2 linked regions of the Homo sapiens genome follow. The protein of the gene in region 1 interacts with the protein of each later gene in a pairwise test. Each region holds a gene or a part of one and is shown in the gene's direction. Other genes may lie near its edges.

The links.
Region 2: the proteins of THAP12 (region 1) and SELENBP1 interact in binary tests that used the Homo sapiens proteins (3 or more experiments, as listed by UniProt).

What each region holds. Positions count from the first base shown.
Region 1 is NC_000011.10:76,353,578-76,357,395, reverse strand, and holds part of THAP12 (52 kDa repressor of the inhibitor of the protein kinase), read left to right. Parts: intron 1-1,741; coding exon 1,742-1,778; intron 1,779-3,818. UniProt on the Homo sapiens protein: Upstream regulator of interferon-induced serine/threonine protein kinase R (PKR). May block the PKR-inhibitory function of DNAJC3, resulting in restoration of kinase activity and suppression of cell growth.
Region 2 is NC_000001.11:151,366,716-151,369,984, reverse strand, and holds part of SELENBP1 (methanethiol oxidase), read left to right. Parts: intron 1-6; exon of another isoform or gene 7-85; coding exon of another isoform or gene 86-215; coding exon 216-272; intron 273-430; coding exon 431-543; intron 544-795; coding exon 796-981; intron 982-1,665; coding exon 1,666-1,786; intron 1,787-2,809; exon of another isoform or gene 2,810-2,969; intron 2,970-3,080; coding exon 3,081-3,263; intron 3,264-3,269. UniProt on the Homo sapiens protein: Catalyzes the oxidation of methanethiol, an organosulfur compound known to be produced in substantial amounts by gut bacteria. Selenium-binding protein which may be involved in the sensing of reactive xenobiotics in the cytoplasm.

The sequences.
Region 1 (3,818 bases):
TGCATTTTCCCCTCTATTTGTTTATTTCTATTTTCCTGGGACTTAGATGAATACTGACACTTACATTACAGTCCTCCATATCAGCTTTCTTCTTGGTGTCCATGGAGGACTGATTCCAGGAGCTTCCCTCAGAGAGCAAAATCCACAGATACTTGATTCCCTTATATACAGTGGTGTAGTATTTGCATATAACTTACACACATCCTCCCGTGACTTTAAATCATTTATAATACCTAATACAATGTAGTGCTATGTAAATAGTTGTTCTGTTACATTGTTTAGAGAATAATGACAAGAACAAAAATCTGTGTGTTCAGTATAGACACAACCATCCTTTTCTTTTTTTTTTTTTTGAGACAGAGTCTCGCTCTTGTTGCCCAGGCTGGAGTGCAAGGGTGCGATCTCAGCTCACCGCAACCTCCGCCTCCCGGGTTCAAGCAATTCTCCTGCCTCAGCCCCCCGAGTAGCTGGGATCACAGGCATGTGCCACCACGCCCGGCTCTTTTTGTATTTTTAGTAGAGACGAGGGTTCTCCATGTTGGTCAGGCTGGTCTTGAACTCCCGACCTCAGGTGATCCTCCCGCCTCAGCTTCCCAAAGTGCTGGGATTACAGACGTGAGCCACCATGCCCGGCACAACCATCCATTTTCAAATAATACCTAGATTATTTATGATACTTAATACATTTATGTGTTTGTAACACCTACTACAATGTAAATGCTATGTAAATAGTTATGCTACGTTATGTAGGGGAAGAATGAGAAAAAAAGTCTGTACATGTTCAAGATAGATACAACCATCCATTTTTTCCCCAGCATTTTCAATGCATGGTTGGTTAAATCCATAGATATGAAGTGTAATATGTATCAGGATGAGGAGCTCAATCACTTGCTGTCCTGTAGCTATCATTTCCCTGTAGTCTGTCCCTCAGAGAGCCTCACATATCTCACAGCAGGCATACTCTTCCTGACCCACCATCCTTATAAACGTGCAGTCCGTAGGATAAGGAGGGGATGTCCAGGTTGACCAGCCTGCTGATGTTTCTTGTTATCAGCACCATGTCCAGTGCTGCCCAACAGGCATCCTGCTGTCTTCAGCTGTCACTGGCATTGCTGCTTTTCTGCCACAGAAAGTAACAGGTGGCTCATGATTTAAGCATTGTAGAGGGTTGGAAGGAAAGTAAAGGATGCAGCTGGAAAGTTCTTCCTTTGTCTAACCCTATTGGTGCCACTTGGCCTACTATGCTCTGTGTATGCTCTGTGTATCTCTTCCATGCTGGTACTTTCACCTTCTGCTTCTCAGGGATTTCTCATCACTTTTGTGTTGAGTCCTGAGATTCAGCAACCTCCTTCTTATGGGACATCTCCAGGGTTAAATTGGGAAGTAAGATGATTTGTGTCCTCTTGAATTTAACTCCAAGTGCCATGGTGTATTTTTGTGCCTTTCATTAGCCAGTAAACACTTATAACCCAAAGTTACGATGATTTAGGTAGAAAATAAGCAAAATGATGTATTCTTTTTTCCCTAAGACTTTGTTATAACCTTGGAGTCATTAACAGCTTATTCTGGTTTTCTCATTGTCTGTTTGTTTGAAGAATGTGTACTATATAAAGAATTTATGCTCTTGAAAGAATTAAATTGACTCAGAATAGGCATTTGTATTTGTGAGTCTAAGATGATACACTAGAGGTCAGTTTTTTAAAGATGATTTGTTTTTTTCTTTTTTTTTCTTGACATTTAGAGTGAAGATGAAATCAGGACACTGAAACAGAAAAAAAGTAAGTGATAGTGTTAATGACTCAACTTCTGAATGCCTTTTAAAAAGGCCTTGACCTGGTAAGGACAAATAAATATGTTCTGTGTTGAAAACCTACCTTGAGAATGAATGTAGGAGTGTGCTCAATTTTGTCCTGTGTTTTGGAATTATCTATGAGACTAAAGTCTAATTTTAGTTTGTCTTTATTGAGTGCTGCAATGCCACACACTATGCTATATGCAGGCCTCATGGAGGTGACGCCTCCTCTCTCAGTGTGGTAGGGGTGGCAGGCACACAGTGCTCCATTGTAGGGAAGGAAGGGCAACAGTAGAGGCATGCACTGAATCTCTTTTTCTGTCCACCCAGTTGTGGTATGTAATAAATTCTTTGTAAATGTTTAAGGACTAAATGCTGTGGGGGCACATAGTGCCATTGTGAGTAGTGGTCACAACAGCCTTTCTGGAGGTGCTGATGTCCGAATTATGTCACCAAAGGACGAGGGCTAGAAGCTGTTTTTCTTCTTGTCAGTTATTAGTTACTCCTCCTCCTCTGTTTCTTCCTCCTATTGCTGTTATTATTAACGTAGCATTTTATTGAGTGCTTACTGATGCCAAATCATTGTTCTAAGTGCTTTACTTGTATTAATTAATTTAATTCTCACAATAGCCGTGAGATAAGTACTGTTATTTCCCTCTTTATGGATGAGGAGATATGGACTTGGGCAAAGAGAGGGAAAGGTATTCTGTGCACGAAACAGGGTGCTGTTTTGGGGAACTACACTCATTTTAGTGTTGTTAAAGTTTGTGATAACCCATTATGGTTAGAAAATAGCCTAGAGAGGACCCCAGAGGCCAGAACTTGCAGACTTGTGGGCTATTAGCAATAGGGAACCACTGAGGGGTTTATAAGTAGGTGATAACAGGGACCTGATTTCCATGGTACATAGAGTACTCTGTTGGATTAGAAAAGGTAACACTGGAGGCATGGAGGCTAGTTAGACTGTCAACTGACCAAATAAAAGTTGAAAGGCCTTGAATTAAGGCAATGGTAGAGAGAGTAAAGGGAATAGATTCAAGGAACTTAAGAAATTTGTATACCTATGACACCTAAAAAGATGTCCAAAAGAAGAGGGACTTGACTTTTCAGTTTGAACTCTTTGCTCTTTAATGAACTTCTTTTTGAAAAAAATAAAAGCAAGAGAATTAGTACTTGTTAATTGGAAGTGGAGAAATAATGGAGGAGAGAGGGAGGGAGCCAGACAGGCAGGCGTCCAGGATAACCTCTTGCTTTCTGGCTTGGGAAGCCTCCCTAGTATAGAACCACTGCTGTGTCACATATAATGAATAGCAGTGTCATCTGATTTGAGGAGGGGTGAAGGAAGGATGCTCCCTGCATTTTTCTGAACCCTTATGAAGCTCTGAAGCATGGCTCACACAGGCTCCGGTCAGACTAGATTTCCCTTTGTACTTGGGCAGCCTGCTTCCCTCTTCTACCTTAGTGCTTGTGCTAGAATAATTCTCACCAACTGAAATGCCCTCCTTGTTCATGTCCCCCTTATTTATCCTTGTCATCAAATGCAACTTCTGAATTTTTGTTTCTCCCCACCGCCCTCCATAGTCTTTTTTCTTTTTGAGACGGAGTCTCACTCTGTTGCCCAGGCTGGAGTGCAGTGGCACGATCTCGGCTAACTATAACCTCTGCCTCCTGGGTTCAGGCAATTGTCCTGCCTCAGCCTCCCGAGTAGCTGGGACTACAGGCATGTGCCACCACGCCCAGCTAATTTTTGTATTTTTAGTAGAGATGGGGTTTCACCATATTGGCCAGGCTGGTCTCAAACTCCTGACCTCGTGATCCACCCACCTCAGCCTCCCAAAGTGCTGGGATTACAGGCGTAAGCCACTGCACCCCCGGCCCTAGTCTTATGTTCTAAGAACTAGGTTTTAACTGTGCCTCCTCAGATTTGGATTATTTTCCTGCAGACACCACTGACCTGTATGACTATGGGCAGGGCATTTAGCCTGTAGGGCCTCAGTTTTCCTATCCCCTGTGAAGAGATTAGGCT
Region 2 (3,269 bases), on another chromosome or scaffold:
CTTCAGGTCATGTGTCTCCAGCTCTTCCCAGCACAACCTCACCCTCCTCAGGGCTCTGAGGGGGCGGAGAGGACAGGCCAGAGCGATGAGGCTGGAGTGGGGACCTAGGCCAGCCGCACTGCCGTGGCCCGCTGGGATGTGTGCTGCAGAACGTGCGGAGGGAGCCTTCACCCTCCAGAGCGTGGCCCAGCCAATGCGCCCCATTGCTTCCACAGCTACGAAATGTGGGAATTGTGGACCCGGCTACTCCACCCCTCTGGAGGCCATGAAAGGTAATTGCCCATGGTCTGAGAGCCAGCGCCCTACTACTGATTCCACAGCTGGGGGTGGAGGGACTTCAGACCTAGCCCCCACCCTCTGGCACACCCAGCACTTCCCCTACCTTTCCTTCCCACCCTGCCGTCCCTGCTGCCTGCTTTCTACCGTGCAGGACCCAGGGAAGAGATCGTCTACCTGCCCTGCATTTACCGAAACACAGGCACTGAGGCCCCAGATTATCTGGCCACTGTGGATGTTGACCCCAAGTCTCCCCAGTATTGCCAGGTTAGGCGGGGCTTGGGCGCCAGCTACTTTGAGACCATAGCTGCCCTCATCCCTGGCCCTGGGCCCCCCCTTCCCAGCTCCATCCTTCTTGGCCCTCCCTGGGGATGCTTGTGCACGCTCAACCTGGGACAAGGGGAGTGCTGAAATCCAGCCTGTGCCGTGCTTCCAAACCAAAATGAGTCCACAGGGCGCCTCTTCCAAAAGTGGACAGAGGCGTGGCCTGGGGGAGCACCACCTCTCCCCGCATCCTAGGTCATCCACCGGCTGCCCATGCCCAACCTGAAGGACGAGCTGCATCACTCAGGATGGAACACCTGCAGCAGCTGCTTCGGTGATAGCACCAAGTCGCGCACCAAGCTGGTGCTGCCCAGTCTCATCTCCTCTCGCATCTATGTGGTGGACGTGGGCTCTGAGCCCCGGGCCCCAAAGCTGCACAAGGCATGTCCTCTGCCCTTGCCAGCTCAGTAGACCATAAGACACCTGCCACCCCAGGTAGTCTACGGGCAGGAAGCCAGACCTAAACCAGCAGCCTCCAGCTCTTACGCGGCAACTGGCTCGGCAGCAGGGAGGGAGGTTGGACCTCAGAGCAGAGTCTACCCAGGCATTCTGGGTCATCACCCTCCAGCACGGTGACCAGGGCATGGGAGAAGAGGGACAAGGCTTCTTGTTTTACTCTGAGAGAGGGAGGGAGCCATTTATTCCCCCATGCAGTTAGGAGCTCAGGGTTCTCTTAAAAATTCCGGTCTCTCCCAACACTTTGTTTAGTGCACTTTTGGTGCCAGGCATTTACTGTGTTGTCTACTGGTAATACAGAGTTGACACTGGTGTAGGCCAGCCTGGGAGGAGCTTATGGTTTCACAGGGCTGCGTGTGCCTTCAGGACACATGGGGAAAGGTCAGCGCTTTCTGCCTGGGGAGTTATTAGCAATCTCTCTGACTTTCCCTTGCTGCTCTGTAGAAGTTACCAGACTGAATCTTTGTCATATTCCCACAGGGAGAGTTGTGTCCATGTTTTGAAGGAAAAGATGACAGAGTCAGCAGATAGAAGTAGGGGAAGTATGGAGGTTAAGAGCAGGGACTCCCAGTCCTGTATGATTCTGACACCATTCCCCACCCCTTCCAGGTCATTGAGCCCAAGGACATCCATGCCAAGTGCGAACTGGCCTTTCTCCACACCAGCCACTGCCTGGCCAGCGGGGAAGTGATGATCAGCTCCCTGGGAGACGTCAAGGGCAATGGCAAAGGTACCTGCCAGCACTGTGTGCTCATGAAAACTTCCACAGCTGTGAAATGTGGGAAGCATTTTTCTGTGGGAGGAGCAGAATGGAAGGGGAGGGTTGGAATGACTTCCCAAGGAGAACCAGTGAGCTGGATCCCAGCCAGTATTTTAAATGTTAGCAAGTAACTTCAGTTTTGAATATTTCTATTAAGATGAGTCTTCACTGATGAATTCAGTTCAAAGTTATAGTCAAAACAGGCCAGGTGTTGTGCCTCACTCCTCTAATCCCAGCACTTCAAGAGGCCGAGGCCAGCGGATCGCTTGAGCTCAGGAGTTCCAAACCAGCCTGGCCAACATGGTGAAACCCCATCTCTGTGTTGTCTGCTGATAATACAGAGTTGGCACTGGCAACTCTGCACTAAAAATACACAAATTAGCTGGGTGTGGTGGTACAGGCCTATAACCCCCACTTCTCAAGAGGCTGAGGTAGGAGGATCACCCGAGCCCAGGGAGGTCAAGGCTGCAATGAGCTGTGATTGAACCACAGCACTTCAGCTTGGGCGTCAGAGTGAGACCCTCTCTCAAAAAAATGTAGTGAGCAGAATGGAGCTTAGACTCTGGGAGGAATCCCACTCCAAAAGTGGGAGGCTGGACAAGAGAAATACCAGGTGCTGAGTCCCAGAAGATCTCGTGGGAGAAACGTTTCTGCTGTGGTCTGAGAGAGAGATGAAGTAGACAGGAGACAGGGGCACTGGCGTAAAGGCCCCCCTGCCACCTGGCCAAATTTGAATACCTGGATGAGACCCTTTGGATGCCTGAATTTTTTATTTACTTTTTCTTTTCTTTTTTCTTTTTCTTTTCTCTTTTTTTTTTTTTTTTGAGATGGGAGTCTCGTTCTGTTGCCCAGGCTAGAGTGCAGTGGCGCAATCTCAGCTCACTCCAACCTCCGCCTCACTGGTTCAAGAGATTATCCTGCCTCAGCCTCCCGAGTAGCTGGGATTACAGGCATGTGACGCCATGCCTGGGTAATTTTTTATATTTTTAATAGAGACAGAGTTTCACCATGTTGGCCAGGCTGATCCTGAACTCCTGACCTCAAGTGATCCGCCCGCCTCAGCCTCTCAAAGGGCTGGGATTACTGGCATGAGCCACTCTTCCCCCAGCCCTGGATGCCTGAATTTAAGGAACTGGCAAATCCAGCAGTGGAGGTAGAGGCAATGGGCTTACAGCCTCTTAGACATGCCTCGGGGAGAGGGCTGGAGGGTGGGGTTAGTGTCTCTACTGCTTCTACCTGCCACCCTGCTTCCTTCCCTGTTCAGGGGGTTTTGTGCTGCTGGATGGGGAGACGTTCGAGGTGAAGGGGACATGGGAGAGACCTGGGGGTGCTGCACCGTTGGGCTATGACTTCTGGTACCAGCCTCGACACAATGTCATGATCAGCACTGAGTGGGCAGCTCCCAATGTCTTACGAGATGGCTTCAACCCCGCTGATGTGGAGGCTGGTGAGA